Linked DNA regions of Homo sapiens: region 2 is linked to region 1. The links come from fine-mapping of genetic effects on gene expression. A gene starts in region 1. The other region holds a variant in brackets. All regions are shown on one strand. Distances are between the middles of the regions. Region 1 holds the start of NIM1K (NIM1 serine/threonine protein kinase). Region 2 overlaps ZNF131 (zinc finger protein 131).

Evidence for each region. PIP is the estimated chance that this variant, and not a neighbour inherited with it, causes the effect.
Region 2: its variant is fine-mapped to the expression of NIM1K in skeletal muscle (GTEx, PIP above 0.99). The same link has a PIP of 0.9 or more in aorta, fibroblasts, stomach, subcutaneous fat, thyroid and unexposed skin.

What each region holds. Positions count from the first base shown.
Region 1 is chr5:43,191,254-43,193,753 of GRCh38, forward strand. NIM1K (NIM1 serine/threonine protein kinase) reads left to right here and starts at 972. Exons shown (of 4, transcript NM_153361.4): 1 at 972-1,158. RefSeq lists a silencer at 813-952 and an enhancer at 1,288-1,997.
Region 2 is chr5:43,161,416-43,164,435 of GRCh38, forward strand. It overlaps ZNF131 (zinc finger protein 131), which reads left to right. Exons shown (of 7, transcript NM_001330707.2): 5 at 1-516. Among named protein-coding and RNA genes, the nearest start is that of NIM1K, 29 kb to the right of the region's middle. The variant C/T (reference allele first, on the strand shown) is at 1,317.

The sequences.
Region 1 (2,500 bases):
GGTTCCCTAGTTTCTACCATAAAAGAATTGTAGACATGGGTTATGTTGCTACTTAACAGTTTTGCTCTTGTAAATATTGCTCTGGCAATCAATACAGGATGGAGAGCAGGAGGAAGTAGAAAGAATGCTCGCAGAACTATGACTTAGGGTGTCTAGTCCTGGCTCTGCCATTAATCAGTTGTGTGACCCTTGCTAAGTTAACTGACCCCTCTGAACTCAGTTTTTTTTTTCTCTCTCTGTAAAAGGAAGGGCTTAAACTTCAGTAAATAACCGGTATGTTTTATTTAGTATTTTGCGAATCCCATTTCCAACTCTACGTTCAATCCAGTGACGGTATTTCTAGTTTATAAACTAGAAAAATAATCTTTGGCATCTGAGGGTCACAGCCGAGAGTATCTCCCTAGCAGGAGATTAGGGAGCCAGTGACAAAGTGGCACCAGGGGAACCGATGTATGCCAGGAATCCAGACAGAGGGTGACATTAGCACTTCTTTCTGCAGAACCTAAACCCTGCCCGACTCACCCGGAGGAGCTGTCACGGTGGTTTGCTGGAAACCCCCTTTCTGTTGGGAGGATTACTGGGTCACGGTTTCCCAAGGACATGGAAACCCTTGCTGAAGCGCTGGAACCGCTCGGCACGAGGCGTACGTCGGTGGGAGCTGTGTCAGCCCGCTTTCGGCCGTGTAGCTGCTCCCATCCAGACTCTAGAAGGGGTCCTCTTTGCGTCAGGCCCAATCACCCCCCTCCCCGAGCGACTGCACTGGGTGTCCCTGCGCCGCGCGTCCCCTCCCTCTCGCCCCTCCCTCCTGGCTGCCATAGAAACCAGCTTACAAGGTCCAGGCCGGCGTCCGGGTGCACTACAGGCCCCCCGTCCCTCCTTCCCCACGCCAGCCCCTCGCTCCGGATTGGTCCTTCAGGAAACGCTGTGGGGCGTCTCGGTCCCCGCTGCGGAGCCGGCCTAGGCCGGAGGGCGGGGTTTGCCCTGGGCCGCTGCCGGTCAGGTCGGCCGCCCCTGACAGCTCCGGGAGCCTCAAGCGCGACAGCGGCGCCCTCACCTCGGGACATCCACACACCGACCGCTCCTGCTCCAGAGGCAACAACCCAGCGCGCCTAGCCTGGCGCCGTGCAGCGAAGCCCAAGAGCTGGCCTCGCCACGAAGGTAAGCGAGGGGCTGGGGGACTCGCCGCCAGCACCCCCACCCCGCCACCCTTCCTCTGCTAGGCTGCAGACCTGGGTGGCTGAGGAGGAGGCGCCTCTCCTCCCCGCGACCCAAGGAAGAAAGGAAGCCCTGCCACGGGGTGTCTGCGAAGTGGGGTCAGAAGAAGGTTAGGCGCTTTCTGGGGCGTACCCCCACACCTGCCCAGGCCGATCCGCAAGCGAGAGGAGGGGGCATTAGAGCCAGGGCGAGAGCGTGCTCGCGCGTGTGTGCCCGTGTCATGTGTGGTGCCCGTGTCATGTGCGGCGCCCATGTCTATGTGCGCGCGTGTGTGCACCCATGTCTCTGTATGGTGTGGACACTCGTGTCTGCGTGCGCGTCCACACGTGAGCCGAGGAGCGCAGCTTAGCGCCTAGCGTTGCGCACAGCGGGTGCGCTGGACCAGAGCCCTAAGGCACCAGACCAAATCTGGAGCGTTTGTTACAAGGGCAGAAGACCGGCGTGATCTCCCCACGCGCGCCGGCCGGTGCTGCTGGTGGAGAGAACTGACATCTAACGCATGTGGCCCAGGAGAACAAAACCTTCCATTGCACCCCACGCCGCGACTCTCCCCAGCGAAAGGTGCTTCTTTTGGAAGACCGCACGAAGTAAGGAAGAGCCTCTTTTCCTCTTCCTGGATATCCCTCCAGGAATATTAGAAGCTCCAGGACTCCTTGATACGACCAGGAAAAGATCGCAACCGGGTCTTTAAAATATCGATTCCAGCCAGCTTCTGCGTGCTTGACACATCTTGGCAGATGGAGAAGTCAAGGCAATAGATAACATGGGCAGCAAAGATTCTGCTATAGCACTTCTTTCCTTTCTGTTTTTTCCTTCCCTCCTTCCCTCCTTTTCCCTCTTCTCCCTCCCTCCTTTCCTCCTCCTCCTCTCCCCTTCTCTTCTCCTCCTCCCTCCCTCCCTTTCTCCCTTTCTCCTCTCTTTTCCCCTTCCCTCCCCTGTTTTCGTCCTCCTGAGTACAGTAGACAAGAGGGCTCTCTGTCTACCCCCCCTCCCCCACCCCATTCCTCATCCCGTTTCAAAATAAGAGCGAATGAATCACATTCTAAGCTCTTACCCGTGCAGTTCTGACAAGTTTGGAAATTACACAAATCGCGTTTGCAATTGAGGCCGCGGGAATCCAAAAGGGAAACAAACGAAACCAGATGAAAAAAAGTGATTCCAAGTCAAGATTTCAAATGGAAATCTAAGGTGAATATTTGTTTATGGTAATAAGATTTTTTTTAATGTTTGAAAAGTATGTATCACACTAGCTTGCATCATCAGTATTCAATGTGATTCACAGAAC
Region 2 (3,020 bases), 30 kb before region 1:
AAGATGAAGGCATCGAAACATTAGAGGAAGTGGCTTCTGCCAAGCAGTCCGTAAAGTACATACAGAGCACAGGTTCCTCTGATGATTCTGCTCTAGCACTGTTGGCAGATATTACCAGCAAGTACCGTCAAGGTGACAGAAAAGGGCAGATTAAAGAAGATGGCTGTCCATCTGACCCCACGAGCAAACAGGTAGAAGGTATTGAAATTGTGGAACTTCAGCTGTCACATGTGAAGGACTTGTTCCATTGTGAGAAATGTAACCGTTCATTTAAATTGTTTTACCATTTTAAGGAGCACATGAAATCACACTCCACTGAGAGTTTCAAGTGTGAAATATGCAATAAACGATATCTTCGAGAGAGCGCATGGAAACAGCACCTAAATTGTTACCACCTTGAAGAAGGTGGAGTCAGTAAGAAGCAAAGAACTGGGAAAAAAATTCATGTATGTCAGTACTGTGAGAAACAGTTTGACCATTTTGGACATTTTAAAGAACATCTTCGAAAACATACAGGTAATGAGCAAATACTTTGTTAAAATTTTTTTTTCCCACATGCACTTCAAATTTAAGTATCTAAATCCTTTTTAAAAAAATAGTGCCTCAGAAGCCATCTCATGTATTATCTCTAATGTGTAGGCTAAGTACACGTTTTTATAGTATTACCTGTTCAAATATTGGTGCTTTAAATGCAAATCAGTATCAACTTTGGAAGTAATTGTTACTTTTATGCCTTGCCCAATTTTTATATTTTTCAAAGAAATAGAGAAAATAGTTTGTGACTTATTTCCTAAAGATCGTAAATAATTAAATCTTATAGTGAGACTTTACCATTTCTATTTTTACATTTCTTGTGTCGTGTTACTTACAGTACATTTACAAGCAATCCCTGACAGCCAGGCGCGGTGGCTCATGCCTGTAATCCCAGCACTTTGGGAGGCCGAGGCAGGCGGATCACCTGAGGTCAGGTGTTCGAGACCAGCCTGGCCAACATGGTGAAACCTCATCTCTACTAAAAATACAAAAATTAGCCAGGCGTGGTGGTGGGCACTCATAGTCCCAGCTACTCTGGAGGCTGAGGCAGGGGAATTGCTTGAACCCGGGAGGCAGAGGTTGCAGTGAGCCGAGATCATGCCACTGCACTCCAGCCTGGTCAATAGAGTGAGACTCCATCTTAAAAAAAAAAAAAAGAAAAGAAAAAAAAGCGGCCAGGCGCGGTGGCTCACGCCTGTAATCCCAACACTTTGGGAGGCCGAGGCGGGTGGATATCTGAGGTCAGGAGTTCAGAGACCAGCCTGACCAACATTGTGAAACCC[C/T]GTCTCTACTAAAAATACAAAAAATTAGTTGGGCATGGTGGCAGGCACCTGTAATCCCAGCTACTTGGGAGGCTGAGGCCGGAGAATTGCTTGAACCCGGGAGGCAGAGGTTGCCATGAGCCAAGATCACGCCATTGTACTCCAGCCTGGGCAACAAGGGCAAAACTCTGTCTCAAGGGAAAAAAAAAAAAAAAAAAGCAATCCCTGACATGTTTATACTTCTTTTCTTTTATTTGCCTTTTTTTTTTTTTTTTTTGGCAGATGGAGTCTCGCTCTGTTGCCCAGGCTGGAGTGCAGTGGCACGATCTTGGCTCACTGTAACCTCCGCCTCCCGGGTTCAAGCGATTCTTCTGCCTCAGCCTCCTGAGTAAGCTGGGACTACAGGCGAGCACCACCACGCCCCTGGCTAATTTTTGTATTTTTAGTAGAGACGGGGTTTCACCATATTGGTCAGGCCAGGGTGGTCTCAAACTCCTGACCTCGTGATCCGCTAGCCTCGGCCTCCCAAAGTGCTGGGATTACAGGCATGAGCCACCACATCCGGCCCATGTTTATACTTTTTAATGTACATTGAGTTACCTGCTTTGGCACAGTAGGTTAGTAGGCAGTATATGTTCATCTCTCTCCACCTTTTCAACAGCAAATATGTCAGGCCTGGCGGACATCCAGGGAGCTGAGGAGAATAAGGTCTTTATACTTCTCCTGGGAGCCATGCAGGCATGATGGAAATGTCCTGAGAAATCTACCTCAGGGCCTCGCCCCACATAGTTCTTCATCCCCTATTCCAGTCGTCTCCCTGTCAAGAGTCCCTGACCTTGCTCAGGTTTCTTGCTTGCTCCCACTCCCCGAACAACCTTTGCTGGGTCTCCTACACCAGACACAGTAGCTACCACCAACGAATTGAATCTTGGATAGTTCCTAAACCTACTATTACAAGGGTATGGAGAGAGCAGTTAATACAGCATGCTAAGTATTAGACTTCTGGACATTTGTTCCCAAGTCTTTGTTATATGTGGTGGTTAAGGCTGTTTAGACTGTTAATACAGTAAATACAACATAGATAGCCTACAGTATTCAGAATCTTTCTCTTTGATGCTGGAGTTTGGAGAGCTTCTGGTAAAAGTTTTTTAAAATAGGTTTGTCACTGTCAGTTGGTATACATCACTTGAAATTAAGGAACCACATAGATTCAGATGATGTTATCCCCCTCACTGTCCAAACTTACTGTCAGTATTCGAGGACTGAGTAAATACAGGAATAGCAAAGGGATCTTGTACTTAAGGCTCAGTATGGATTTAAAAGTCTTTAAGGTACTTAGTTTGGATAACTAATAGGCGTTTATGAAATCTTTTGGGAAAATGCTTTCTGATTGCAAACATGTATATATACAGTCTACTTTTGAACAACGTGGGTTTGAACTGCTTGCATCCACTTACATGCAGATTTCATTCAACTAAATATGGATCAAAATTATAGTATTCCCAGGATGCAAAACCCATGTATGTAGAAGACCAACTTTTAGTATGTGTGGTTCCACAGGGCCGGCTGCAGGACTTGAGTGTGCGTGGATTTTGCTATACGAACCAATCCCCCGCATATACCAAGGGACGCCTACCTGTTTTATATAATATTTGGAAACTGCCTACAGTTACAATTTTTGGTCCTTAGAAAACGAATAATAGTCTGTTGGTGAACATTTTTGTG